Linked DNA regions of Homo sapiens: all the other regions are reported to be linked to region 1. The links are microRNA targets in miRTarBase. Many come from high-throughput screens and were not tested one by one. Region 1 holds a microRNA gene; each other region holds the end of a gene's coding sequence. Distances are between the middles of the regions.

What was found. The annotated mature microRNA hsa-miR-4649-5p reads UGGGCGAGGGGUGGGCUCUCAGAG and lies in region 1 at 1,551-1,574, shown strand. An mRNA with a match to its seed (bases 2 to 7 or 8) in the 3' UTR can be bound and repressed. Matches are read on the target gene's strand: a 7mer-m8 pairs with bases 2 to 8, a 7mer-A1 pairs with bases 2 to 7 and ends in A, and an 8mer does both.
Region 2: miRTarBase lists ATAT1 as a target of hsa-miR-4649-5p. The part of its 3' UTR that is shown has no 7-base or 8-base seed match.
Region 3: the mRNA of ORC1 is a reported target of hsa-miR-4649-5p. Seed matches in the 3' UTR shown: 7mer-A1 at 3,162-3,168.
Region 4: the mRNA of SLC36A1 is a reported target of hsa-miR-4649-5p. Seed matches in the 3' UTR shown: 8mer at 3,347-3,354.
Region 5: the mRNA of ZNF282 is a reported target of hsa-miR-4649-5p. Seed matches in the 3' UTR shown: 7mer-m8 at 1,986-1,992.
Region 6: the mRNA of PIGR is a reported target of hsa-miR-4649-5p. Seed matches in the 3' UTR shown: 7mer-A1 at 3,047-3,053.
Region 7: miRTarBase lists C5AR2 as a target of hsa-miR-4649-5p. Seed matches in the 3' UTR shown: 7mer-A1 at 871-877.

What each region holds. Positions count from the first base shown.
Region 1 is chr7:44,109,301-44,113,375 of GRCh38, forward strand. MIR4649 (microRNA 4649) reads left to right here and starts at 1,549; the gene lies at 1,549-1,612. It overlaps AEBP1 (AE binding protein 1), which reads left to right. Exons shown (of 21, transcript NM_001129.5): 9 at 1-41; 10 at 715-824; 11 at 907-1,046; 12 at 1,425-1,509; 13 at 1,613-1,757; 14 at 1,854-1,939; 15 at 2,207-2,330; 16 at 2,554-2,750; 17 at 2,842-3,021; 18 at 3,258-3,609; 19 at 3,691-3,830; 20 at 3,952-4,051.
Region 2 is chr6:30,645,937-30,650,009 of GRCh38, forward strand. ATAT1 (alpha tubulin acetyltransferase 1) reads left to right here. Exons shown (of 13, transcript NM_001413067.1): 11 at 1-38; 12 at 131-173; 13 at 533-885. The coding sequence ends at 707. It overlaps C6orf136 (chromosome 6 open reading frame 136), which reads left to right and starts at 1,197. Exons shown (of 6, transcript NM_001161376.2): 1 at 1,197-1,910; 2 at 3,622-4,023. The coding sequence starts at 1,296.
Region 3 is chr1:52,369,945-52,373,944 of GRCh38, forward strand. It overlaps ORC1 (origin recognition complex subunit 1), which reads right to left. Exons shown (of 17, transcript NM_004153.4): 17 at 2,885-3,431. The coding sequence ends at 3,237. Among named protein-coding and RNA genes, the nearest start is that of CC2D1B, 5.7 kb to the left of the region's middle.
Region 4 is chr5:151,487,844-151,491,918 of GRCh38, reverse strand. It overlaps SLC36A1 (solute carrier family 36 member 1), which reads right to left. Exons shown (of 11, transcript NM_078483.4): 11 at 1-3,936. The coding sequence ends at 3,665. Among named protein-coding and RNA genes, the nearest start is that of MIR6499, 32 kb to the left of the region's middle. RefSeq lists an enhancer at 910-1,079.
Region 5 is chr7:149,223,998-149,228,072 of GRCh38, reverse strand. ZNF282 (zinc finger protein 282) reads right to left here. Exons shown (of 8, transcript NM_003575.4): 8 at 1,835-4,075. The coding sequence ends at 3,426. Among named protein-coding and RNA genes, the nearest start is that of ZNF212, 14 kb to the left of the region's middle. RefSeq lists a silencer at 1,259-1,466.
Region 6 is chr1:206,926,475-206,930,549 of GRCh38, forward strand. PIGR (polymeric immunoglobulin receptor) reads right to left here. Exons shown (of 11, transcript NM_002644.4): 11 at 2,048-3,939. The coding sequence ends at 3,844. Among named protein-coding and RNA genes, the nearest start is that of FCMR, 6.6 kb to the left of the region's middle. RefSeq lists enhancers at 3,128-3,177, 3,648-3,937, 3,864-4,075, 3,988-4,075.
Region 7 is chr19:47,341,550-47,345,624 of GRCh38, forward strand. It overlaps C5AR2 (complement C5a receptor 2), which reads left to right. Exons shown (of 2, transcript NM_001271749.2): 2 at 1-4,075. The coding sequence ends at 264. Among named protein-coding and RNA genes, the nearest start is that of DHX34, 5.7 kb to the right of the region's middle.

The sequences.
Region 1 (4,075 bases):
CGAGGAGTTGGAGGAGGAGTGGACGCCTACGGAGAAAGTCAGTAAGTGGGGGGCACAAGGGGGTGAGGGTGGGGGCCACAGGATGGGGGTGCTGGGACAAGTGACTGGCCCAATGTCACAAACAGGACCCAGGTCCCCGGAACCCTTTCCTACTCAGATTCTTGGGACCCAGAAGGGAGGGGCCCCGGGAGCCCAGGATAGCCTCGCTTGGCTGCCCCAGCCCTGGACCCCAGGCTGGCCTGCTTCAGGAGGGTGGCAGCTCCCCAGGGCCCCTAGTGGCTGGGCGTGGTAGGGGGAGGACCTGGGGCCTTGGTGGGGAGTGAGGACCTCAGGTACCTTCACAGGTATCCCTGCAGGGCCATTGTGCAGACGGTCCCCATCTGGATGACATCTGTGGCTGCGCCCTGGGGGAGCTCTACCTGTGATTTCACGTGTGTCCCCTGAGAGCTGGGCATGGTCAGCCCGTTCTCCAGATGGGGCAGCTGAGGCCCAGGGAGGGGAAGCACAGGCTGGGATTGGAAACAGCTCCTGGCCTGGCTTTGAGTCGATTCCAGGTGGGCTGGTGCAGGGCACCAGGGAGCCACCAGCTGACCAGAGCTGCCCTCTGACTGTGCCCCCGATGTGCCGGGAGTGGGCTCTGGGCTCCTTGGTTCTGGGTTTGGTGGAGGGAAGGATGGAGCTAGTGAGCCACCATTCTGGGGTACGCGTCCTCAGAGTGTCCCCCCATTGGGATGGAGTCACACCGTATTGAGGACAACCAGATCCGAGCCTCCTCCATGCTGCGCCACGGCCTGGGGGCACAGCGCGGCCGGCTCAACATGCAGGTGGGCATTGGGATGGGCCCATCTCCCAACTGGGATAAGGGACTCCTCCGCCCATGCTCAGCCTCCCCTGCCCCCTGGACAGACCGGTGCCACTGAGGACGACTACTATGATGGTGCGTGGTGTGCCGAGGACGATGCCAGGACCCAGTGGATAGAGGTGGACACCAGGAGGACTACCCGGTTCACAGGCGTCATCACCCAGGGCAGAGACTCCAGCATCCAGTGCGTGGCCAGGCTCATGGATAGTTGGCAGAGGGGAGTGGCTACATAGGCATGGCTCTGTGTCCCATTAAGGAGATTCCAGTGGGCCCTTCTTTGGCCCAGCCAAAGAAGGCCAAAAAGATCAGTGAGGGACTCACCCTGCCCATCCCCACTCCTCAGCCTGGTCAGTCAGCCCCTGTGTCCTGATAGCACATGAGTTTAGGGACAGATCACCTGCCCATGGCTATGTGACGGGCATAGGACCCAGGCTCAACACCTGGGCCGTGCAGCACCACCCTGCTAGCTCTTAAATTCTTGGGGCTCGGAAGAGGGAGGCTCAGGCCACCTGAGGGCCTGGGAGGGGGAAGACCCTTGCTCTGACCACTGTCCACTCCACAGTGACGATTTTGTGACCACCTTCTTCGTGGGCTTCAGCAATGACAGCCAGACATGGGTGATGTACACCAACGGCTATGAGGAAATGGTGGGCACCATGCCCAGGCTCTTGGCTCTGCTCCCATTGTCTGGGCGAGGGGTGGGCTCTCAGAGGGGCTGGCAGTACTGCTCTGAGGCCTGCCTCTCCCCAGACCTTTCATGGGAACGTGGACAAGGACACACCCGTGCTGAGTGAGCTCCCAGAGCCGGTGGTGGCTCGTTTCATCCGCATCTACCCACTCACCTGGAATGGCAGCCTGTGCATGCGCCTGGAGGTGCTGGGGTGCTCTGTGGCCCGTGAGTGTGGAGGGCTGGCAGGGGCTCTGAGTGGAGGTGGGGTGCTAGGGTGGGCCAGCCGGCACCCAGCTAAAGACAACCCCGCCTCCCTTGCAGCTGTCTACAGCTACTACGCACAGAATGAGGTGGTGGCCACCGATGACCTGGATTTCCGGCACCACAGCTACAAGGACATGCGCCAGGTTGGGAGCATATATCCTGGGGCTGGGGGTGGGACCTGTCTGTGGCTGACGGGAGTGTGTGCCTGGTGCTTCTGTCACTGGGCCCAGTCCCTACTGGTTCCAGGGATGCTGGCTGTCCCTCACCTTAGGAAGGAGGCCAGTACCTGGGGGCTGCGTGAAGGGGTCATGCCCGTCCCTCGCCATAGAGCAGGCCCTGGAAGTGGAAGGGGCATGGTCAGCGGGGGACGGATTGCATGATTGATTCCACGTCCTCCCCCTCTGCCCCAGCTCATGAAGGTGGTGAACGAGGAGTGCCCCACCATCACCCGCACTTACAGCCTGGGCAAGAGCTCACGAGGCCTCAAGATCTATGCCATGGAGATCTCAGACAACCCTGGGGAGCATGAACTGGGTGAGGGTCTGTGGGGGCCAGCAGCTGGCCTCTGCTGCTGATGTGCAGAGCTCACTGCCTCCCGCCTGTTCCGGAGCCTCTCTGGGGATTCTGGCTTGTCTTACAGGGCCCTAGGAGCCCCAGCTGTCCCCCAGACCCTCGGGTATGAGGTGGGTCTGGGTCCTTCCTCAGCTGCCCTGGGCCTCGGGAGACTGAGTGCTCACTGAGGCTCCCGCCCTTGCAGGGGAGCCCGAGTTCCGCTACACTGCTGGGATCCATGGCAACGAGGTGCTGGGCCGAGAGCTGTTGCTGCTGCTCATGCAGTACCTGTGCCGAGAGTACCGCGATGGGAACCCACGTGTGCGCAGCCTGGTGCAGGACACACGCATCCACCTGGTGCCCTCACTGAACCCTGATGGCTACGAGGTGGCAGCGCAGATGGTGGGTTGAAGGGTGAGGCTGGCCAGGGTCCAGGCAGCTGGGGGTTGTGGGGGTGTGGGTAGCCGATGCCTACCCTGCTGGCTCCCCACAGGGCTCAGAGTTTGGGAACTGGGCGCTGGGACTGTGGACTGAGGAGGGCTTTGACATCTTTGAAGATTTCCCGGATCTCAACTCTGTGCTCTGGGGAGCTGAGGAGAGGAAATGGGTCCCCTACCGGGTCCCCAACAATAACTTGCCCATCCCTGAACGCTACCTTTCGCCAGATGCCACGGTGAGGCTACAGCCTGGCTGAAAGGGCAGGAGGGAGCAGCTGGACCCTGGGGTCCTGGTGTTCTGGGCTTGGGGGTGGGGCTGACGGTGCCTGAACTCCAGACGCTGAGGCTCTGGGGGTTGGGGGACAGGGGATCGTGCGAGTACTGGTGTGAAGCTTCATGGAGGGTGATCGGGCTAGGTTGGGGATAGTGGCCGGAGCTGCAGCCCTGGCCTCACACGTGCTGGCCACTCCAGGTATCCACGGAGGTCCGGGCCATCATTGCCTGGATGGAGAAGAACCCCTTCGTGCTGGGAGCAAATCTGAACGGCGGCGAGCGGCTAGTATCCTACCCCTACGATATGGCCCGCACGCCTACCCAGGAGCAGCTGCTGGCCGCAGCCATGGCAGCAGCCCGGGGGGAGGATGAGGACGAGGTCTCCGAGGCCCAGGAGACTCCAGACCACGCCATCTTCCGGTGGCTTGCCATCTCCTTCGCCTCCGCACACCTCACCTTGACCGAGCCCTACCGCGGAGGCTGCCAAGCCCAGGACTACACCGGCGGCATGGGCATCGTCAACGGGGCCAAGTGGAACCCCCGGACCGGGAGTGAGTCAGCCTGGGAGGGGCTGTGGGCGGGGCCTGGTCCGGAGAGGGGCTGACTTTGGGTCTGTATCTGTCCCCGGCCAGCTATCAATGACTTCAGTTACCTGCATACCAACTGCCTGGAGCTCTCCTTCTACCTGGGCTGTGACAAGTTCCCTCATGAGAGTGAGCTGCCCCGCGAGTGGGAGAACAACAAGGAGGCGCTGCTCACCTTCATGGAGCAGGTGGGGTGGCTAGGGCAATGCCTGGGGAGAGGAGGCTGCACAGGCTCCTGGATGGGCGGGAGGGAGCAGCGGACCACATTGGACCTTCCTGAGGACCAGCAGCCCTCACCTGCTTCCCTAGGTGCACCGCGGCATTAAGGGGGTGGTGACGGACGAGCAAGGCATCCCCATTGCCAACGCCACCATCTCTGTGAGTGGCATTAATCACGGCGTGAAGACAGGTACCTAGTGTGCACACCTTTACC
Region 2 (4,073 bases), not on the chromosome of region 1:
CCGCCATGGGGGGGTGAATTCCTCATCCCCCAATACAGGTAAGTATTCACTCCTCCCTACCCTCAAATCAAGTAGGCCACATTCACTGTCTACTCCTGCCTTCCCATTCACATGCCTGATATTTCCACAGGCAACCAAGACTCCAAGCAGGGAGAACAGGAAACAAAGAATAGGTGAGGTCTAAACCCCTCCCCTAACAGCCTCCCACCACCATCTGACTCCCTTCCTAACATCATTCTCAGTCACTTCCTACTCTTAAATCTTATTGTATGAACTGGACACCAGCTCCTCCCACAATTCCTTCTACCTTACATCCTGCAAGCCCCTTTCCCCCACAGGTTCAACTCTGGTACTTCCCTTTGGAATACGGATTCTCTGAGAGGTTTTAAATTTGGACATAGCACTAATGGTTCCAGCTTCATACCCATCATGTGTCCTACATTAAAACCTGGCCCGAGACCTTGAAGAGTCTGTAATCTTAATTTCCTCTTTAGTATTCCTATAACCCACTCTCCATCTCCCCACCTACCAGGTCTGCCAGTGAGGAGCAGGCCTTGTCACAGGATGGGTCTGGGGAGAAGCCCATGCACACAGCTCCTCCACAGGCCCCGGCCCCGCCAGCCCAGTCCTGGACAGTGGGTGGGGACATACTCAACGCCAGGTTCATTCGAAACCTGCAGGAACGTCGCAGCACCAGGCCTTGGTGACCGCAGCCCCGTCAAACATCTTCAAAGTATTATTTCTCCCTCACTACAGGAAAGAGCCAAAGCCCAACCCTCATAATAGATGGATACATTCATTCATTCATTCATTCAGCAGGCTTATCAGATTCAAGTCATTTGTATCTTTTAACCAGACCAATAAAAGTATTTATTTTTATCACAAGAGCTGTTGAAAAATTTGACTCATTATTTCAGCCGCCTCACCCCTCACTGTCGTTGCACCCATTCAGCCTTCAGCCCTGTTTTTGCTCAGCTTTTTGCTCAAAGGCCTCAGCTGTGAATACAGCGCTTGGGGGGGCGGGGGAGGCTGTAACTTGCGCAAGCGCACTCAGGCAGTCTCCGAGCCCGCGGGCGCAGGCGCGCTTACAGCCGACAGAGCGCTTCAGCCGCTTCCCTCGAGCCTGCAGTGCGCAAGCGCGGGACATCTCCGTTTCCCTCCCTCAGCCCCTTCCCCCCCTACCCCCCCGCCCCGGCCTCCTTTCCCCTTCACGAAGCCGGCTCTGGGGCGCGCTCACCCCTGTGAGGAGGCCGGAGGTCGGACTCAGGAGGCTCCTTCTCCACTCCCGGAAGATCATGTACCAGCCCAGCCGGGGTGCGGCCCGGCGTCTCGGCCCTTGCCTGCGCGCCTACCAGGCTCGACCCCAGGTGAGCGGAGGAGAAGAGGGAGGGAGGAGAGGGGGCGGGGAGAGACCCTCCTCAAAGCCGGTGCGTGGGGCGGAGCGCGCGCTGGGTTCCGCGCAGGCGCAGAGACACCCGCCGCCCCTTCCCACCTGTGCCCTGCAGCGCGTGGACAGGCTAGGGGTCGCGGGAGCGGGAGGGAGGCGCTGCCGGGCCTGTCGCGCAAGGACGTCGGTCCTCCCAGGTTTGAGGGCGGTCAGGCGGGGTCAAGGCCAGGCAGCGGGGCGCGTCTGCGTTGCGCCCGACTCTCCGCGGTTACCTGTGCCTAGAGGTGATTTGAAGGGCAGGGGCCGAGAGATTCGTAGCCCTGCTGCGGCGCCGTCCCGGAGTTCCCCGGCCCAGACCAGACCCGCGGGGCGCCCTCAGCAGCCCGCCCGTCTTGCACTCGGAGAGCGGTCCTGGCAGGAAGGCCGGCCAGTGTGCACCCGGTTCGGGCCCCTGCGCCCGGGCTGGCAAGATGGCCACGCCCCCAGCAGAGACGGCGCCTCTAGGACACCATCGGGGACCGAGGTACCCGAGCGGTCCGCCCGCCTTCCCTGCAGTGAGACGATCCCCTGGGGGGTTCCTTGGGAGCGGAGGGACTCGGGTGAGGCCTAACTTTGGGTGACCTCCCCTTGCAGTTTCAACGTCGGTAAACCCAGGAGAGTGAAGGCCAGCCTTTAACTGTCTCCTGAGGTTGTGTCTGTCATTAGAGGGGCCCGAAATGATAATAGCTTCCATTTATGTACTGCTTTCTAGGTCGCTACGTTTTGTTTACATTCATTATTTCATATAGGCCTCATAACCCAGTGAGGCTTTATTGTTCTCATTTATAGGACATTTGTAGGAAGCGGAGGCATAGGGAATGAGAATGCCTAAAGTTACATGATAGAATTCAGATTCCTAGCTTCAGCTGGATATTCTTTTTTCTCTGTACATTTGCCTCGCACACTTAATCATGGAGATGTACAGGCCACAGCATTTAATCCACAGTACAATAAAACCTGTTATTCGTTAACTCATCAAGTATGTATTACATGATTCTTGCGATAAGAGAGGTGAAACTGCCCCCAGTGTTGGAATCTTTTTTTTTTTTTTTTTGAAATGGAGTCTTGCTCCGTCACCCAGGCTGAAGTGCATTGGCACCATCTCGGCTCACTGCAATCTCCGTCTCCTGGGTTCAAGCAATTCTCCTTCCTCAGCCTCCCGAGTAGCTGGGACTACAGGCTCCCGCCACCACACCCGGCTAATTGTTTTGTATCTTTAGTAGAGATGGGGTGTCACCATATTGGCCAGGCTGGTCTCGAACTCCTAGACCTCGTGATCCGCCCGCCTCGGCTTCCCAAAGTGCTGGGATTACAGGCGTGAGCCACCGCGCCCGGCCACATTTCTTTAAGATTCCAACACTGGGCCGGGCACGGTGGCTCACGCCTGTAATCCCAGCACTTTGGGAGGCCGAGGTGGGCGGATTACCTGAGGTCAGGAGTTCGAGAACAGCCTGGCCAACATGGTGAAACCCCATCTGTAACTAAAAATACAAAAATTAGCCGGGCGTGGTGAAGGGTGCCTGTAATCCCAGCTACTCGGGAGGCTGAGGCAGGAGAATGGCTTGAACCCAGGAGGCGGCGGTTGCAGTGACCCGAGTTCGCGCCAATGCACTCCAGCCTGGGCGACGGTGAGACTTCGTCTCAAAAAAAGAAAAAAAAGTAAAATGTCTGCTAGGTTTTGGGAGGTGCCGGTATTTATGTCACATAAAACAGTTTGCTCGGCTGGGCGCGGTGGCCCACGCCTGTAATCCCAGCACTTTAGGAGGCAGAGGCGGGTGGATCACGAGGTCAAGAGATGAAAACCATCCTGGCTAACATGGTGAAATCCTGTCTCTACTAAAAATACAAAAACTAGCTGGGCATGGTGGCGCGCGCCTGTAGTCCCAGCTACTCAGGAGGCTGAGGCAGGAAAATCACTTGAACCCGGGAGGCGGAGGTTGCAGTGAGCTGAGATCGTGCTACTGCACTCCAGCCTGGCAACAGAGCGAGACTCCATCTCAAAATAAATAATAAAATAAAATGGTTTCCTCCTGTTTTCAGTAGAGATGGAGATGAATCCATCCCTTTTTTCCTATAGTAATTCCATCCATTCTGTCAGGAGGAATAGGTATTGGAAGCCTGTTGAGCATCCAGGGGATCAAGGGGTGTTAGACAAGTGGATTCTTATCTTTCTCCCTTCTGTTCTTTCTCCTTAGGACCAGCTTTATCCAGGGACTCTACCATTCCCACCCCTTTGGCCCCACTCCACGACAACCACTTCCCCATCTTCTCCTCTATTCTGGTCTCCCCTGCCCCCACGCCTTCCCACCCAGCGTCTTCCCCAGGTTCCCCCACTACCTCTCCCTCAGATCCAGGCCCTCAGCTCAGCATGGGTGGTTCTCCCTCCAGGAAAGGGGGAGGAGGGACCAGGACCTGAGTTGCATAGCGGCTGCCTGGATGGGCTTAGAAGCCTTTTTGAGGGACCTCCCTGCCCCTATCCTGGGGCTTGGATACCTTTCCAAGTCCCTGGAACTGCCCACCCTTCCCCTGCCACCCCGTCAGGAGATCCTAGTATGGAGGAACATCTGTCTGTCATGTATGAGAGACTGAGACAAGAGGTAAGTCAGTGCAAAAGTGGCCTTCGTCTACAGTGGGAAGGATGTGGGTA
Region 3 (4,000 bases), not on the chromosome of region 1:
TAACCATCACACTGGCTGATATGGTTTGGCTCTGTGTTCCCACCCAAATCTCATCTTGAATAGTAATCCCATAATCCCCATGTGTCCTGGGAGGCATCTTGTGGGAGGTAATTGAATCATGGTTTCCTTCATGCTGTTCTTGTGATAGGAGTGAGTTCTCACGAGATCTGATGGTTTTATAAGCATCTGGCATTTCCCCTGCTGGCACTCATTCTCTCTCCTGCTGCCCTGTGAAGAGGTGCCTTTCACCATGATTTTAAGTTTCCTGAGGGCTCCCCAGCCATGTGGAACTGTGAGTCAATTAAACCTCTTTTCTTTATAAATTACGCAGTCTCAGGTATTTCTTCATAGCGCGAGGACAGACTAATACACTGGCTCATACAATTTCTTGCATTTCCTAGGCTAAGATTCACCAAATAATCTTCAAAAGTCATTCCACCTCCATCAGCAGGGTATTGGGGTCCCAGTTGTTCTGTGTAACCATAGAAAGGTTTTCTAATAGATGTGAAATGGTTTTGGTTTGCATGCCTCTTTTACTGTTTCCATTTTCTTGGTCATTCGTGTTTCTTCTTTGGATGACTTATTTGTTATTTACCCATTTTTTTCTTTTTCCTTCTTTTTTTTTTCTGAGACAGTCTTGCTCTGTTGCCCAGGCTGGAATGCAGTGGCACAATCTTGGCTCACTGCAACCTCTGCCTCCTGGGTTCAAGCAATTCTTTTGCCTCAGCACCCCTGTAGCTGAGATTACAGGTGCACACCATCACCCCTGGCTAATTTTTGTATTTTTAGTAGAGATGGGGCTTCACCATGTTGGCCGAGCTGGTCTCGAATTCCTGACCTCAGGTGATCTACCTGCCTTGGCCTCCCAAAATGCTGGGATTACAGGTATGAACCACTGTGCCTGGCTCATTTTTTCTTTTTCATTGCAGTTTTAAAAATATTGATATTGATCCTCAATCCATTATATGTAATTATAAATACATATGTGAATATAGAAATACATATTTTTGCTAAATGATTTGAGAATGAGTTGCAGACATAATACATCACTTATAAATATTTCATTATGAATCTCCTAAGAACAGCATTCTCCTACATAATCACAAATTTATCACGCTCGGGGAATTTAACACTTACAAAATACTTCTGTCTAATACATAGTTAATAATGTTTATAATTGTTTATATTTCCTAAATCCAGGACCCAGTCAAGGTTTATATAGTGCATTTAGCTCTCATGTCTCTATTCTCCTTTGGTGTAGAATAGTTCCTCCATGTTTTGTGTTTTTTTTCTTGTGATATTAGTATTTTCAATGAGTTGAACAGCTGCTTTGCAGAGTTTCTCCCTAAATTTAGATTTGTCTGATAATTTTCTCATCAGTAAATTTAGGACAAGCATTTCTGACAGGACTAGTACACGGGTGGGGCTGTTTTTTTTCAGTACCTCATATTAGGTTTTATTTATTTTTTTCAGACGGAGTCTTGCTCTGTCGCCCAGGCTGGAGTGCAATGGTGTGATCTCAGCTCACTGCAACCTCTGCCTCCTGGGTGGGTTCAAGCAATTCTCCTGACTCCCAAGTAGCTGGGACTACAGGTGACACCACCACGCCAGACTAATTTTTGCATTTTTAGTAGAAACGAGATTTCACCATATTGATCAGGCTGGTCTCGAACTCCTGACCTCAGGTGATCCACCCGCCTTGGCCTCCCAAAGTGTTGGGATTACCGGCATGAGCCACCCACGCCCAGCCTCAGTACTTCATGAGGTTTTAGATGTTCATTGCCTGTTGTTGGTTTCCATATAAATATTAGAATTAACTGCAAAGTCATACAAGAAACCTTGCCAAGATTTTGATTGGAATTGATTTCTATCTAGAGATTACTTGCATCTCTTTATTAGACTTATTCCTAGGAGACGGACATGGTGGCCCACACCTGGAATCCCAGCTACTTAGGAGGCTGAGGCAGGATTACTTGAACCCAGGAGGTTAAGGCTGGAGTGAGCTATGATCCATTACTGCATTCCAGCCTTGGTGACAGAGGGAAAAAATAAATAAATAAATAAATATTTAAATCAATTTATTTCTAAGTACCTTATATTTTCTGTGACATATAAATCTTTTGTATTTAAAGGTTTGTTTTGTTTTTATGGTAAATGGTACCTTTGTAAAAATTACACTTTCTAGCTATTTGTGGCTAGAGATTACTTATGATTTATATTATTTCCAGTAGTTCCTTTTTTATAAACTATATTTTATTTATTTATTTATTTATTTATTTTTGAGACGGAGTTTCACTCTGTCGCTCAGGCTGGAGTGCAGTGGCGCGATCTCAGCTCACTGCAAGCTCCGCCTCCCGGGTTCATGCCACTCTCCTGCCTCAGCCTCCCGAGTAGCTGGACTACAGGCGCCCGCCACCACAACTGGCTAATTTTTTTGTATTTTTAGTAGAGACAGGGTTTCACCGTGTTAGCCAGGATGGTCTCGATCTCCTGATCCACCTGCCTCGGCCTCCCAAAGTGCTGGGATTACAGGTGTGAGCCACCGCCCCTGGCCTAAATTTTATTTATATTATTTGAAACTTAAGACAGATAATGACATACAGTGAAAAGTCCTCCTCTAACCCCTAACCCTGGCCATCTGATTCTTTCCATCTGATTCTTTCCAGAGGTAATCAGTGTAACCAGTTTTTTGCATACTCTCCCAGAACTATTTTATATAGATACAAGTAAATCGTGTACTTATATTTTATATATGTTAGCATTAAATAAATGGCAGGCCTAGTAACAGAAATAAAAGTCACATGGAAGGACTATTGTAGGAAGGACAGTTTGGTTTCATAATCAGATGTTTGTAATGATTATAATGTAATAACTTCACAAACACTCAGGAAAAAGCAAATTATTTAATGGAAAATTCCAAAATACATGAGAGCCATTTCCATTCAATATACTTTGTTACAACAATTCCATGTACTTCCAAAATCAGATGCTTTGTAGACTAGCTTGGCAACATGGTGAAGCCCTGTCTCTACAAAAAATCAGCTGGGCATGGTGGCATGTGCCTGTAGTTTCAGCCACCTGGGAGGATGAGGTTGGGGGGTCACCTAAGCCTGAGAAGTCAAGGCTGCAGTGAGCCATGATCGTGCCACTGCACTCCAGCCTGGGCGACAGAGCAAGACCCTGTCTCAAAAAACAAAACCCAGCAAGACCCCAGTCTTTTAACTTGTGAAGCCCCTTTACTCGTCTTTCAGCGCATACAGCACATCATCCTGGCTGACGTTGAGCCGCACCCGAAGGAGCAGATCGTTCCTGCTGGGCTCCACAAGCAGGAGGCGACAGGAGCCCAGGTGAGAACACACGGCCATGGTCTCTGACATGGTGGGGTACGGCAGTCCCTCCATTCTGCACAGTGCCACATGTTGACTATATATCTAGACACAAATAGCAAGGCAAAGGTTAAGAGGAAATACAATCCTGGGGCTTTTTCTGTTCCTTTCTTTCTTCATTTGGGAAAATCAGACACATGGCCCCCAGGATATCAAACACTCCAGAAGGCATCAGTTGGTGCCCCAGTGGTACACAAAATGCAGAGGCAGAATGGAATGCTAGCCTTGGAATCAGAAAACAGCAGGCCCGAATCCTGGTGCTACCATTTACCTAAATATGTAGACCTGGCCAAGTTACTGCACTCTTTTGAGCTTCAATTTTATCTATAAAATACACTGTACATCCCTTGTGAGTTAATGGATATAAAATGACTAGTAACTCTCACTGGTGATACAAATAGTCTTGTCTCCAGGGGCTGAGAGTTTCATAATTGAGACTGTCAAAATTCAAGTCAAATTTTGCTACAAGGCCACTTTCCTTATCAGGTACAGTGAGCAAATGCCAAGGCATGACCCTTGGAAAAGCACAAAGGCCTAGAGAGAAAATTGAATAAAGAAATAAAGGGAGGCAGGAGGATAGCTGGAAACATAGATTCCTACCCTAACGTTCTCTA
Region 4 (4,075 bases), not on the chromosome of region 1:
AACCAGCCGGACTTACTGTCTAAAAGTATTAACCGTAATTTCAAAGACAAACCACACCCCTTCCTTTTCCCCTAATGGCCTCAGAGATTTGTAATGTACTTTGGAAAATTAACTTCTAAGGCAGAGTGGAAGCCAACCTCAAGTCCTGCCACTTGGACTCTGTGTCTTCTCTTCGAGGAAGCAGCATTGTGCACCCAGCAGGGGCAGATGCTGAGGCTTGCCTTAACATCTCAGCAGCTACAAAATGAAATCCACTGATACAGAACCCCTTGCTGTGAGCAGTGAGGAGAGAGAGCTGTAAACAGACACAAATTGAGATTTTTGCACTTCCAAAAAATACGAGGTGAACATTAGTGCTAAACAGAGAGAATGTTCTAGGAAGGGAGAAATCTGAGAAGAAAAAGTAAGATGAGAGAGAAGAAACATGATTTTTCTAATGTACTTGTTTGAGATCAACACTTTAAGACTACTGATAAAACTAAATTTCGTGGGGATAGACAGTGAGCAGTGAGCATCAGCCAGTGAATCTGGCTGCAGAGGAGAGATGGAATTGGGCGGCTGAAGTGAAATGATGCCACACATTCACACATATCTAGCCAGGGCTTGTGCAGATGAAGGGATCTTAGCAGCTGGACAGCAGCACAACATAAATAATGCCACTTGTGAATGGTGACAACTGCTAGGCAGGGTGAACAGAAGACGCCAGCTCACACTCTTCCTAGCAAGTGCCTGCATTTAGGAGGAGGTGCACTGCCCACTGAGAGCTGGAAGCCCGCTCCCAACAGCAGCATTTGGAGGACAGAACCACCAAGGGGCTCTGAGAAAGCTACCTCTGGCTTGGAGAAATTGGGGTGACAGGAGCAGGGTCACAGAGCTCAAGAGTATCTGGCCGGAAAAGCCCACGGTTTCCCTTTGCTCCAGCAGATGCAGCCTCACACTCCCGAAAGCCTTTGCTCCGTTGCTCTGTGATCATATTTCTACTTATCCTGGGAAGACACTGGGGAGGGCTCTCTACCTCAAGAAGCCCTTTGGGCTGCATAAGAGATTCTGGGCTGGCTGCGAGCTGCTTGCATAAGAGGAGGAAGGGCTTCCTCCCACTACTACTGACTGGCTGACCCTTTGCTTGATGCCTAAGAGCTGTGCACCTGCATAGCCAGGAAGGTCCTCTGGCTGGAGCTGCCCTTCCTGGGTCTTCTGAAAGAGCCACGCAATCAGTCTGTCAGTGTAGCAGGAGCACAAGCCAGAGATCAAATAGGCCATGCCAAATTGGCTTCCAGAAATCCTAAAGCTACAGCCAACTCTCCTACATACCACGTTCTCACGGCCAGGGGTGTGGAAGCAATAGCCTGCATCCTGCTAAGAGCTGGGGGACCCCAGTATTCTACCATCCAGTCCTCAGGTCCCAACATCACAGTCCCAATCTCAGAACTCGGATGGGCAGGATGGTCTCTAGCAGCTCTGAGTAAACAGAAACGTCCACCAAGGAGGACATGGGCAGGACACAGGTCTGGCCCTCCAGTTGGCATCTACCTTCTCACTGAGACCACTCTTAGCACCGCTGGGAAAGACAGCTAAGATAGCGGCTGGGCTGCCAGAGCCCGAACTTGGAACCAGGAGATGACAGTTTCTGAGCCCACTTTGGTAACTTCTAAGCCTGAGACTTCAGAAGACAGGGCCTCTGCTACTCCCGGCTAGATTCCTGGTCACATAGCACCTGTTAAGAGTCCACCATAGAACAGAAAGGGTGGGTGAAAATCGTCCTTCTCCTAAGGAAGAACAAGTCAACAATGATAGCATATTCCTAAGTTAACAAATTATTAGGTAGGTTGGGAGTCACTACAATGAGAGTCCACTTTTCCCATCCCTTCACCTGGAAGTCAGCTCTCCTGGCTTTGGAACAGAAGAGACAGAAAAAACTGGGGCCATATGGGTGGGTCACAGCCCTTATGAGCTTTGGCGAAACACAGAAGCAAAACCCCTGATACATTTTTGCTGCTCTCCTTCAACCAGCTTTCAGAGTGAACTGTATCTGCAGTGAAGCAAGAGCCTGGTGACGGGACAGAAGAGAAAAGGAGTCTGGTCTGTTACTTACACAGGAACACACACACACACGCACGTACACACACACGTGCACAAATACACAGCTAAAGAGGGGGAATTCATCAATGGCCTTCTGAAATACTTCGCACACCAAGAGGAAAGAAGAGGCAGCCCACAGCAAGGCAATGTATCTTCCTCTGCCTTCTCTGAAGTTTGCTCCCAAATCTGAAGGCTGACCTTGAGGAGGGCCAACCTCAAGGCTGTTTGTGAAACCCAGGGAGGCATTCTGGGGGAAAGACAGGGCTCATAATTAGTGTTCAGTGGGTTCCTTTCAAAGTCCAGGCCACAGAGGCAGTGTGGGGCCGGGCACTGGTTCTGCCCTTTTCCCCACTGATTGTAAACAACCGAGCACTGCGCGTAGTGTCAGACCAGCTGCTGTAAAGTCTATTAACTTAATTTCAAACTCTGTGCACACTGACCTCAGCTACTCATCGGTGGCAATAGAGCTGGTGTCGTCCCAGCACGATGGCAACAGAGCATTGCTGATCCTTTCACCTGGCGTGGGCTGAGGCTGAAACATGGGCCTGCATGCACACAGCCCCATTTTATACGCCTCTCACTCAGCCACCCTTCCCTCGGCCCGGTGCACCCATACATTTCTGCAGTCCTTCAATGTCTTTTCGGTATGAAACCAGGCTGGTCAACAGGAGGCAAAATCTGTGCCTCCTCACCGAGGTACATTTTTAGACGATCCTGATTAAAACCTTTGAGTCCTCAGCCAAGAGTGCCGAGGACCCATGCAGACATCTGGAGCGAGCTTCTTTTCAGCAGGAGAAGTTGAGTCAAAGTTTACTGAAGAAGAAGTGATTCGTAATAGCCCCAGATCTAAGACAGTCTAAAAACAAAAATCTGATTTTAAATAAAAGATAAATATTTTCAGTTTAGGCAACACTTCGTATGTTTTAAGAGCTAAAGCAACTAAGAACACAGTACTGTGACCCACACTAAGGAATCCAGGGAAGAGAAGCATTGCCTTAGGGGTCACAGCAAGCCAGAGAGTCCAGATTAAAAACTCCAGCTTGGGGGCCTGTTTCAAATGACCAGGTAGGTCCAGCCACCCCCTGGAGACTCGAATAGGAAGAATACTGAGATACAACATTTGGGAGAGAGATGAGAAAGAAGCCCAGCTTTATAAAGAGGGGGCGTTCCCAGTTACTTAATCTATGCCTGGCCCAGAAAAGGTGAAAACATGAGGTGGGGGACATGAAAATTGTTAAATAAAGTGAACTGTGCAGTAAGAATGAGTTGGGCGAGGTGCACCAGCAGAGGGGAGGCAGGTAGGAAGGAGGAGGCATGATGAGGGGGAGCTGGAAAGTTCTGGGTGTAAATAGGTACAGGTGAGCGATGGCAGCCCTGTCACTAGTAGCACTTCTGCGTGTCTGCCACCCCACCTCTCCCCTGCCCTCAGGTTACCTGGCCCAGGGTATCCAGGTGCCAGGCAGAGGGGTTCCCACACAGCAACCCTGACTTTCCTCAGAGCCTGGACCATACCTGAGGCTCTGAGGACAGGTAACGGGGGACACATGGGGCAGGGGTAGGCAGCTGCAGAGACGAACCCAGATCCCTATATGAAGGCACAGGTGGAATTGATGAAGATGGGAGCATTGCTTGGCTGGATCAGCTCATAGAGAGCCTCATAGGTCCCCACCACAAAGCCCACGAAGCCCAGGATGCTGATCAGGGCGTCCTTAAAGATGGTGAGGGGGCTCATGCCCTCTGAGTAGAAGGTGGTGACCTCCAGGAGCGGTGGGATGATGAGGGCCAGGGCGCTGCTGCTCACGGAGCCCACCAGGGAGATGACCAGGTCCAGGCGGGGGATGAGGATGGCCAAGATGCCTGCAGGGAGAGAGGACATGCCTGTTTAAGATGCCCAGAGCTGGGAAAGGTCTGTCTCCCTACTGTTGAGCGAATTCAGCATCTGTCCATCTTATAGGATTGAGAGCTCTAAGAAAACTTAGACATTGTCCAGTTCAAT
Region 5 (4,075 bases), 110 Mb from region 1:
CCATCTAATTAATAAATAAATAAATAAATAAATAAATAAATAAATAAATAAAAGGCCAGGTGCAGCAGTTCACATCTGTAATCTCAGCACTTTGGGAGGCTGAGGTGGGAGGGTTGCTTGAGCTCAGGAGTTCAAGCCCAGCCTGGGCAACATAGCAAGACCCTATCTCTACAAAAAGTAAAGAAAAACAAAATAGCCAGGTGTGGTGATGCATGCATGCCTATAGTCCCAGCCACTGGGGAGGCTGAGGCAAGAGACTGCTTGAGCCCAGGAGTTCGTGGCTGCAATGAGCAATGATTGAATCATTGCACTTCAGCCTGGACAACAGAGTGAAATCCTATCTCTCTCTTTTTTTGAGGAGTCCCGCTCTGTCGCCCAGGCTGGAGTGCAGTGGTGCCATTTCGGCTCACTGCAACCTTTGCCTCCCGGGTTCAAGCGATTCTCCTGCCTCAGCCTCCCAAGTAGCTGGGATTACAGGCACCCACTATCACGGCCGGGTAATTTTTTGTATTTCAGTACAGATGGGGTTTCACCATGTTGCCCAGGCTGGTCTCAAACTCCTGAACTCAGGCAATCCATCCACCTTGGCCTCCCAAAGCGCTGGGATTACAGGTGTGAGCCACCATGCCTGGCCTGTCTCTGTTTTTAAAATTTTTTTCTTTACTCTAGAGACAGGGGTCTCACTATGTTGGAAGGGCAGTCTGAAACTCCTGGTCTCAAGCAATCCTCCCACCTCAGCCTCCCAAAGTGCTGGGGTTACATGAATGAGCCACCACGCCCAACCGGATTGCTTCAGCTCCAGAGGTCAAGGCTGCAGTAAGCCAAGATTGCACCACTGCACTCAGCCTGAATGGCAGAGCAAGACTTTGTCTCTACATAAACTACATTTTCTCAGAAGGAAAATAAAAATCCACCCCCAAAGCAAAACCCCTGTTCTGCTTCAGGATGTGGACTCCAGGGTCTTCACTGAGGATCTTCGCTGCCTGGGAGCCAGCAGAGGCTAACATCCTGAGTGTCACCATCCCCGATCAGCTCTGGGGATGAGGCTCACTATGGGATGCTCCAGCAACCTGTGCCAGGGCTTGGGGCGACTCATGGTGTAGCTGAGGGGTACTTGGTGCAGTGGTATCCACCAGCCTAGGATACAGGAAAGCAGAGAGGCTTGGCTCTCACTAGCTCAGTCCCTAGGTCTCCTTGGGAATCAGCCCCTTGAAGGTAAAATAAAGGGATCACACTGAGCCTTGTGCTCAGGTGTTTTTTTGTTTTTGAGTCGGGGTCTCGCTCTGTCGCCCTGGCTGGAGTGCAGTGGTGCGATCTCCGCTCACTGCAATCTCCACCTCCTGGGTTCAAGCGATTCTCCTGTCTCAGCCTCCTGAGTAGCTGGGATTACAGACACCCGCCACCACGCCCGGCTGATTTTTGTATTTTTGGTAGAGACGGGATTTCACCATTTTCGTCAGACTGGTCTCAAATTCCTGACCTCGGGATCCGTCCGCCTCGGCCTCCCAGTGCTGGGAATACAGGTGTGAGCCACCGCGCCCGGCCAGGTGTTTTAAACCCATGTCTCAAGTGACGTCTCCCCTCTCCTCACACTCCTGCAACCAAAAGACATTCTGACCTTTCCATGATCTAGATTAGGAAAATACTTCGTGCATATGCTTTTTAAAAGTGGCACACTACCCCCCTCCCCCAGCAACTGATCACTGGAGGGTCCCCTTCTGCTCTAACAAAACTCTACTGAACCCTGTCTAATTTCTCATCTCAATTTGCTTTCTTAAGATTTGTCTCCTTCAAAAAGCAGAATGAAGAAAAAAAAATACCCCATTGAATTGGATTCCAGTTCATTGAGGCTTTACTGTAGGCAAGCTGGAGAACCCCCAGCTCTGTGAACATGCAGTCTGCAATCTGGATACCTTTTATTTAATGTCAAGAATTCCCTTTGCACGGCAAAAAGGGGTCTGAGGAAAGCGGAGCAGCGTAGATGAGGGCGAGGGCGGAAGCAGGACGCTCGCCAAAGTGGTGCCGGGTGCCGGCTGCCCACTGTGATCCCGGCTGGGAGGAACGCCGGACCCACGGCAAGGGCAGGGAAAGTCATTTTTGACACAAACAAGGGTCCTGGGGCATACCACCCCACCCGGTGCCAGGCCATGCAAGACGCTGAAATGGAGACTGTGGCCCCTCGGGACGCAGCGCCCGGAGCTATGGAGCAGGTGCACCAACGTGAAGGGGAATCCTTTGGGCGCTTCCCGAGGCGCCTGCAGGGTGTGGAGCACAGCAGGGTCTGTATCCATGTCCGTGAGCACGGGCAGTAACAGATAGCACCAATTGGGAGGCCCAGGGCAGGAGAGCCTGAGGCTCAGACTCTAGCACCCACTTGCCCGGCGCTGCTGGGAAGAGACACGTGACGGCTACTCTCACAGCAAAAGCCTCTCCCTCGCCCCTCTGCCCTGGGAGAACTGGAACAAATCATCATGGTGAGGTCTGACCTGGGGCCCTAACTGCCTGTGGGGGACCAGGCCACTGTTGTGCAGTGACAAGATGCTGCTGCACCAGATTGAGGGGCTGGGGACAGGCTGGGGCCGAGGCGGCACCAGGAGCTCCCATGGAGAAAGAGCCCTCTGAATGTACAACCTGGGGCGTTCCGTAGCCAATCTGTTCCCGGCTCCCAGGAACCCCAGGAGCTGGCCTCCTGTCGCTTCTGGTTTTATCCGTGGGTGAGAGCAAGGAAAGGAAGAGAGACCAGGAAAGGAAGAGAGACCAGGAGGGCCAGGCCAGCAGCTTCCCGAGCAGCGGAGGTAGGCGGAGAGCGCGGTTGGGCAGCGCGCGCCCCTTCCCGTGTGATTGGGTGAACCGTCTCACCTGCCTCTCACTTTACTCGGTCACCAGGAAAATCCTACCCCACCTATCTGAGAGGGATAGGCCAAGGGTGAAATGGATAACGGATAGAAAACACTTAAAAAAGTATAAAGCGCTATTGAAACGCGAGGCAGTGTTGTCATCATGAAGGTGTTACCCTTAGCACATCCCTCGGCCTTCGCTTTTTTTCAGGGCGTCTCCTAACCTTGGGACCTGATTTCCTGATCTCAGAAGGGCTTCGGGACTCCCTGGTGGCTTCCCCTGATGACCATCTGTGGCCCAGTGGTCCCAGGGCACTCGAGGAGGTGTGAGGGCGGTGCCCGAGGACGCTCGGCTCCTCGCGGTCCCCCTGGCTCTTCCCCAGCAGCTGGGTCCACCCTAGATGAGCTGGGCGTCCATTCAGACCAGACAGATCTGGGGGATCCCTGCCCCACCCTGGGGGACCCCCAACCGGAGTGCAATGCCTGTTGCCGATTTCCAGACGGTGGCTGAGGACACCCGGCAAGGTGGTTGGTGCTCAGGCCGCCCCCGATCCACTCCGTCCGGCCCTGCCCTCCCCCAGCCCAGCCCTAGTCTCGCTCAGGAGGCGGCGGGAGCTGCCGTGGGGCGCCGGGGCCCGGGCCGCCGCTGTGCACGCGCAGGTGGTCCTTGAGCGACTCCTTGTAGCGGAAGCTCTTGCCGCACTCGCCGCACGTGTAGGGGCGCTCGCCCGTGTGGATGCGCTGGTGCTTGAGCAGGTTCTGCTTGCGGATGAAGCTCTTGCCGCACAGTGCACATTGGAAAGGCCGCTCGCCCGTGTGCAGCCGCTGGTGGTTCTGCAGGTGCTCCTTACGGCTGTAGGTCTTCTCGCACTCCGAGCACTTGTAGGGCCGCTCGCCGCGGTGCGTCATCTGGTGGCGGATGAGGCCCGAGTGGCAGTTGAAGCTCTTCTCGCACTCAGCGCACTCGTAGGGCCGCTCCTTGGTGTGGCTGCGGTGGTGGATGATGAGGCTCTTGCGCACGCCGAAGCTCTTGCCGCACTCGGGGCACGAGTAGGGCTTGCTGCGGGCGCCGTGCAGGAGGAGGCTCCGCCGCAGCCCGCCAGGGCAGCAGCTGCCACAGCCGCCGCCTGCCCCCGTCCCCGCCTCCGCGCCGCCGCCCCCACCGCCCCCATCGCCCCCGCCGCCCCCGGTGCTGCGGTCCCCACCCGGCGGCGCCTCGCCGGAGCCACGCTCCCCGG
Region 6 (4,075 bases), not on the chromosome of region 1:
CTGCTTGGCTCCTATACCGATGATCCTCTCTCCATGCCTGCCTTGCTCCACAGCCTGCTGGGACCTTTGGTCTCAGTCTCACAGCTTGCCTCTCAGCATGTCCACTGTCCACTTAGACATGTAGCCTTTTTGAGATGATCTCTTATTTTTGTTGCGCAGACTCCTTAGTAGAGATAATTATTTTAGGAAAGCTGGGAGGGATGGGGTGGGAAACTCTACTTGTTTCTCTGCCTGGGGGACCGGTTTCATAGACCATAGCACAGTCAGTTCCTCTCGCTGCTGTTTAATGTTCTTAGGAGAGATGTTCTGTCTTGAGTTTTGGAAAAGTCTAAATCAGAGATCTATTTTTTAGCTTTACAAAACAAAATCAATTGCTATAAACAAGTTCCTGGCTGGGTGCAGTGGCTCACGCCTGTCGTCCCCATGCTTTGGGAGGCAGAGGCAGAAGGATTGCTTGAGGCCAGGAGTTCCAGACCAGCCTGGGCAACAAACAAGACCCTGTCTCTACCAAAAAAAAAAAAAAAAAAAAAAAAAAAAAAAAAAAAAAAAAATTCCTAACCACTGTTTGGCCTTAATAATGCCCAGCAGTGGTTGAGCATTAATAATAGTTGGGCCTTCATAATAGTCCTGTTGGGCCTTAATAATAGTCCTGTCTTTACATATTGGACTTTTAAAAAAGAATAAACATTAAGATAATTCAAGAACTTGGGAAAGATTTCCTTGTCATCAAATGTTTAAACAGTTCCTTGAATGCTCGGGGCCACTGACCGTTGCTAATTGGTTTATCATCATCAATCCTGCAGTTTATGGTCACTCCCCTATACTAAGCTGAATCATATCCTCTCCAAACTCACGTCCACTGGAACCTATGAACTAGCTTCCTTATTTAAAAGGGTTTCTTGTGCTACACGGGGAGCAGATGGACTTTGAGCCTTACTGACAATATCACTTAGGAATAATATAAGATCGCTTTTGGCTTTAGTGACATTTCTTGACCTTTGCTTCAAAGGGCTGGGATAGGCTACACGAGTTCAGGACTGGCTCGCTGGTTATTGCAATGCGTACAGAAGTTGCATCTTAATCCTCTACCATAAACATGGCCCTTTGGTGAGTCAGAGAACAGCTTCCTGGAAGGGTAAGACAGTGGTAGTTTCTGACACACCTGTCATTTTGATCCTCCTGGAACGATTTGCTGTCATTCCAGAAGGTATGCATCCCCATCACAGAAGAAAGAAAAAAACATTTCTGATGCCCCCTCTTCTGGCTGGATAGAAGCCCAAGACTCTGACCCAGGTCAGGGCCTGGGAACTGAGACTGGAGTACTGCAGTTAGTGGGGCTGGAGGGAACACCAAAGGAGGCCTGAAGTCTGAGTCCCAGGAAAAGGTAGGCTTGGGAAGCTCATAGCATCCACAGCATTATGTTTAAGGCCTGGGTGGAAGCAAAGGTTCACATCAGGCAGGATGGCAGACTGGGGAGAACTCTCTTGCAGAGAGAACTCTCCACACACAGAAGCCCTGTGGAAGAGTCTAGGGGTGAGATGGGGGGCTAGCTGCCAACAGACAGCTTGGGCAGCCCTTAGAGGATATGACATGGTTCAGCACCAGAACCTAGGAATGATCTTAACAGACAAGGGGGTCCCAGGGTGCCTAAAATTGGGACCAAAGCAAAAGGCAGCCAGATGCAGTGGCTCACATCTGTGATCCCAGCACTCTGGGAGGCAGAGGTGGGAGGATCAGTTGAGCCCAGGAATTCAACACCTGCATAGGCAACATGGCGAAATTCTGTCTCTACAAAAAAATACAAAAAGTTAGCCAGTGTGGTGGTGGACGCCTGTAGTCCAAGCTACTCTGGAGGCTGAGGTGGAAGGATCACTTGAAACCAGGAGGTTGAGGCTGCAGTGAGCCATGATTGCACCACTGCACTCCAGCCTGGGCAACAGAGTGCCCTGTCTTAAAAAAAAAAAAGGAAAAGAAAAAGAAAAGAAAAGCTCTGAAGAGGCTGTCTGGGAGACAGAAGGTATTGGGTGCAAATACAGTCTGAGCCTCGTTGGTGGCAATCACAGTCTTTAATCATTAATTGTCATATTTCTGATTTGTTAGCAAGTGCCAGCTTGTAGGCTGGTTGAAGTACAGAACTCAGAGGAAAAAAGAAATTAAATTTTAGCTTTCTGGAGAGCAGCCCCTCTCTGGCACCATCAAACACTTCTTTGTTTCCCTTCAACTTGGAACTCTTCAAACATCAGGGGTTGTGAGGGTTTGGCCATTCTTTTATCTTGGGTCCATGTGAGTGACAGAAATGGTGCGGCCTGGGAAAGATCTCCCTCCTTTACATTTTCTCTTCTCCCTCCTCCTCCTTATTCTAAAACTGTGCCTCCAACAGAGGGGCAGGGGCTCTTGTAGAGAGATCCCTGGCCCAGGACAGGAGATGCCAAATCTAATTTATCTCACTGAGGGCCTTTGAGAAAAACGCTTCAGGGCCAGGCTCAGTGGCTCATGCCTATATAATCCCAGTACTTTGAGAAGCTGAGGCGGCAGATCACTTGAGGCCAGGAGTTCGAGACCAGTCTCGTCAACATGGCGAAACCCTGTCTCTACAAAAAAAAAAAAAAAAAAAAAAAATTAGCCAGACATGGTGGCCCACATCTGTAGTCCCAGCTACTTGAGAGGCTGAGGCATGAGAATAGCTTGAACCTGGAAGGCAGAGGTTTCAGTGAGCCGAGATTGTGTCACTGCATTCCAGTCTGGGTGACACAGTGAGACTTTGTCTCAAAAAAAAGAAAAGAAAAAAAGAGGCCGGACGCGGTGGCTCACGCCTGTAATCCCAGCACTTTGGGAGGCAGAGGCAGGCGGATCACGAGGTCAGGAGATCGAGACCATCCTGGCTAACACGGTGAAACCCTGTCTCTACTAAAAATACAAAAAATTAGCCAGGCGTGCTGGCAGGCGCCTGTAGTCCCAGCTACTTGGGAGGGTGAGGCAGGAGAATGGTGTCAACCTGGGAGGCGGAGGTTGCAGTGAGCCGAGATTGCGCCACTGCACTCCAGCCTGGGCGACAGTGAGAGACTCCGTCTCAAAAAAAAAAAAGAAAAAGAAAAACGCTTCACTCTTCCAAACCTCAATTTTCTTATGTGTGAAATGGTAAGAATGTGGGTTTATAATTACCTGTGTGTATGCTCATCATACATGACCCCTAAGGCCTTAGGACTCGAGACATTTTATGACCTCTCCCAATAGGGGCAGAGGTGAGCACCCCTGGTGAAAAGTTAAGACTCAGTGAGTATAAATACGCCAAGAAGAGCTGTGGCTTCTTTCACTGGTGTCCTCAGAAAGGCTGTGAGCAGTGTTGGTGGCATACCTGTCACAGCATCTAGCAAAGCACCTGAATTCTAGTATGAATTCAAATACATCTTTTGATGGAAGGAAAGAAGAAGAGGGGAAGGACGGGAGGGAGGGATGGAGTGGAGGGAAAAATTCTGTTGACATCCCATGATAAGGGTGCAGAGGGGCGCTGCACGTCTCTCCTTTCTGCAATCAGCTCTCCCACCCTGGTCCCTCTTCCTTCAAGGGACCCATGAGGACCTCTATTCTTCTCCGTACCTGAGGTTCTCTCAACAGAAAGAAGTTGCAAGTGGGACCTCCTCATGCCACCCTCATCCCCAATAGGAACAATTAGGCCAGGCTTTGATGTCACTGAGGAGGGGACCAGCACGCCTCTGAGGACAGTAGGAAAAACCTAGGCAGGTGTTAGAGCAGGGAGTGGGGTCCCCAGGAGCTGAGGGCCCCAGGATCGACATGATTCTGAAGGTGATTGTCATGGGTGCAGGGAGCAGGCGGCGACACCGTCTAGGCTTCCTGGGGGCCGTCCTGGGCCTCGGCGGCCACGGTGCTGGACTGGAGCAGGAAGTCTTTGTAGGCCATCTCGGCTTCCTCCTTGGATGACTAAGGGGCAAGAGGAGAGGCATCAGTGTTGGGGGCACTGGCTCAGTGGGTGGAGTCAGGGGAGGGGAGGTGCTTAATGTCCTGAATTCGTGATCTTGGTCCAAGCAACACAAGCCTTTGGGGCCCACTGTTCTCA
Region 7 (4,075 bases), not on the chromosome of region 1:
CTGCTGGGGCTGGTGCTCACTGTGGCGGCCCCGAACTCCGCACTCCTGGCCAGGGCCCTGCGGGCTGAACCCCTCATCGTGGGCCTTGCCCTCGCTCACAGCTGCCTCAATCCCATGCTCTTCCTGTATTTTGGGAGGGCTCAACTCCGCCGGTCACTGCCAGCTGCCTGTCACTGGGCCCTGAGGGAGTCCCAGGGCCAGGACGAAAGTGTGGACAGCAAGAAATCCACCAGCCATGACCTGGTCTCGGAGATGGAGGTGTAGGCTGGAGAGACATTGTGGGTGTGTATCTTCTTATCTCATTTCACAAGACTGGCTTCAGGCATAGCTGGATCCAGGAGCTCAATGATGTCTTCATTTTATTCCTTCCTTCATTCAACAGATATCCATCATGCACTTGCTATGTGCAAGGCCTTTTTAGGCACTAGAGATATAGCAGTGACCAAAACAGACACAAATCCTGCCCTCAGGGAGCTGATATTCTTCTAGTGGAGGAAGACAGACTATAAACAAAGATATATAGGGCCATTTGCGGTGGCTCACGCCTGTAATTCCAGGGCTTTGGGAGGCTGAGGCAGGTAGATCACTTGAGGTCAGGACTTCAAGACCAGCCTAGCCAATATGGTGAAACCCTGTCTCTACTAAAAATACAAAAATTAGCCGGGCATGGTGGCGCATGCCTGTAGTCCCAGCTACTTGGGAGGCTGAGGCAGAAGAATCGTTTTGAACCCGGGAGGCAGAGGTGACAGTGAGCCAAGATTGAGCCCCTGCACTCCAGCCTGGGCGACAGAGCGAGACTCCGTCTCAAAAAATAAATAAATAAAAGATTCTATTTATTTATTTATTTTTTTGAGATGGAGTCTCGCTCTGTCGCCCAGGCTGGAGTGCAGTGGCACAATCTCGGCTCACTGCAAGCTCCGCCTCCTGAGTTCACGCCATTCTCCTGCCTCAGCCTCCTGAGTAGCTGGGACTACAGGCGCCCGCCACCATGCCCAGCTAATTTTTGTATTTTTAGTAGAGAAGGGGTTTCACCTTGTTAGCCAGGATGGTCTTGATCTCCTGACCTGGTGATCCACCCGCCTCAGCCTCCCAAAGTGCTGGGATTACAGGCGTGAGCCACCGCACCCGGCCAAAAGATTTTAATAGGATCCCTCTGGTTGCTGGTGGAGGTGAGAGTATGGTGTAGGGGCAGTGAAGATCCCAGAGAGGAGGCTACTGTAATGGTCCAAGCAGGAGGTGATAGCGATTTGGATCAGGGTAACAGAGCTGAGGTGGTGAGAGGCTGACAGGTCATGCATCTATTTTGAAGGAAAGGCCAAGTCCAGGCTCCTTAGCTCGGCATTCAAGGCTTCTCTCCACCACTGGACACACTTACTCTCTAGCTTCTCAGACCCTGTAGCAATCAGAATCATGACCCCCGGTGATGTCCACATCTTAATCCCCTGAACCTGTGAAGAGGTGACCTTCCATGGCAAAAGGGACTTTGCAGGTGAGATTAAGTAAAGGATCTTGAGAAGGGGTGGTTATCCTGGATTGTCTGGGTGGGCTCAATGGAGTCACGAGGGTCCTTTTAAGAGGGAGGCAGGAGGGTCAGGGTCAGTCACAGGAGGTGACAACGGAAGCAGATGTCATAGTGACGTGAGGAGGTGCCAAGAAATGCAGGCAGCTTCCAGAAGCTGAAACAGACAAGGAAACAGATTCTCTCTGAAGCTCCCAGAAGGAACACAGACCTCCTGACACTTTTAGACCTCTGATCCGCAGACCTTTAAGAAAATACATTTGTATTGTTTTAAGTCACTATGTTTGGGGTGATTTGTTATAGCAGCCGTGGGAAGCTAATACACACCCTTCGGGCTATATTCACGCTTCTGCATCTTTCCTGAAGCTGTGCCACTGGCTGGAATGTCCTTCTGATCTATGTTGTGCAGTTCAACAATCAAGAGCCATCTGTGGCTATTCAAATTCGAATCAATTGGCCAGGCCTGGTGGCTCCTGCCTATAATCTCAGCACTTTGGGAGGCCGAGGTGGGAGGATTGCATGAGCCCAGGAGTTTGAGACCAGCCTGGGCGACATAGCAAGACCCCATCTCTACAAAAAATACAAAAATTAGCCAGACGTGGTGGGGCGTGCCTGTAGTTCCAGCTACTGAGGAGGGAGTTGCTTGAATCCTTCTGCTTCAATCCTCCTTAAAGCAGGTAGATTGCTTGAGCCCGGGAAGTGGAGTTTGCAGTGAGCTTAGATCACACCGCTGCACTCCAGCCTGGATGTCAGAATGAGACTCCATCTCAAAAAAAAAAAGAAAGAAAGAATAAATTTTCATTTCAAATTTAGTTCCTCGGGCACACTGGCCATAGTTCAAGTGCTCAGTAGCCACATATGGCTGGTGACTGCCATATTCGACAGCACAGCTATAGAACATTGCCATCATAACAGAGATTTCTGTTACAAAATGCTGTTCTAGAATTTACTTTTGAACTCTACCTGCTCAGATCTTTTAAATTACATGGTAGGCCAGGCATGGTGGCTCACGCCTGTGATCCCAGCACTTTCGGAGGCCCAGTCGGGAGGATCCCTTGAGCCCAGAAGCTGGAGACCTGCCTGGGCAACAGAGCAAGACCCCATCTCTACAAAAATAAAAAAAAGAAAATTAGCCTGGTTTGGTGGCACATGCCTGTAGTGCCAGCTACTAGGGAGACTGAAGTGGGAGGATTGCTTCAGCCTGGGAGGTTGAGGCTGCAGTGAGCCGTGATCTCATCACTGCACTCTAGCCTAGGTGACGGAGCGGGACCCTGCCGCTAAATAAATAAATAAATAAATAACATAGTAGTGATACCTGTGTCTGCGGTCATTACTCCAGAACAGCACTTCACATATAGTTTCTCCTTTAAGGTCATTCTCACAACAGCCCAGGGAGATAGGGTGGCATGCTTCATTTTATAAGCTGAGGTCCTGGGAGGGGAGGTCATTTACCCAAGATCACACAGCAAGAACACCAGACAGCTGGAATTTGATCCCAGTTTTGACTCCAATGCTCTTGCTCTTCATCATCAATAATTTCCTTCAAGGCGTCCCTCAAATGTCACTTCCTCCAGGAAGCCCTCCCTGATTTATGCTCCTTCCAGAAAGAATGGGCTCTTCCTTTCTCTGAGTCTCTGGAACACAAGGTCCCAGCTAAACTGTAAATTCCCCAAGGGTAACAACTGGACTAATTTTTTTTAATTTAATTTAATTTTATTTTTTTGAGATGAAGTCTTGCTCTGTCACCCAGGCTGGATTGTAGTGGCACGATCTCGGCTGACCGCAACCTCCACCTCCCGGGTTCAAGCGATTCTTATGCCTCAGCCTCCCGAGTAGCTGGGATTACAGGCGCTGCCACCACACTTGGCTAATTTTTGTATTTTTAGTAGAGACAGGGTTTCACCATGTTGGCCAGGCTGGTCTCGAACTCCTGACCTCAGGTGATCCACCCACCTTGGCCTCCCAAAGTGCTGGGAATACAGGCATGAGCCACCGTTCCCGGCCTTATCCTTGACTTAGAATACCTAACCTCCTGGGAATGCAGCCCATAGGTCTCAGCCTTATTTCACCCAGCTCCTGTTCAAGATGGAGTCACTCTGGTTCACATGCCTCTGACATTTCCCCGCTCCCTTTTATAAGAGAACCTTTAATCCTAAGGGTTGTAGAGGGAGGAAGATACAACTTCTGTGACTTCTTCAGGCTGGACAGGGGTGACGATATACCTGCCTAACTCTTAGGATCTATTGGATTCAGGGTAGACAGGAGCTCAGTCAGAAAGCACTGGTATCACTTTTTTTTTTTTTTTTTTTTTTTGAGACGGAGTTTCACTCTTGTTGCCCAGGCTGGAGTGCAATGGCACGATCTCAGCTCACCACAGCCTCCGCCTCCCAGGTTCAAGCGATTCTCCTGCCTCAGCCTCCCCAGTAGCTGGGACTACAGGCGTGTGCCACCAAACCCAGCTAATGTTTTTTTTTTTTTATTTTTAGTAGAGACGGGGTTTCTCCATGTTGGCCAGGCTGGTCTCGAACTCCCGACCTCAGGTGATCCACCCGCCTC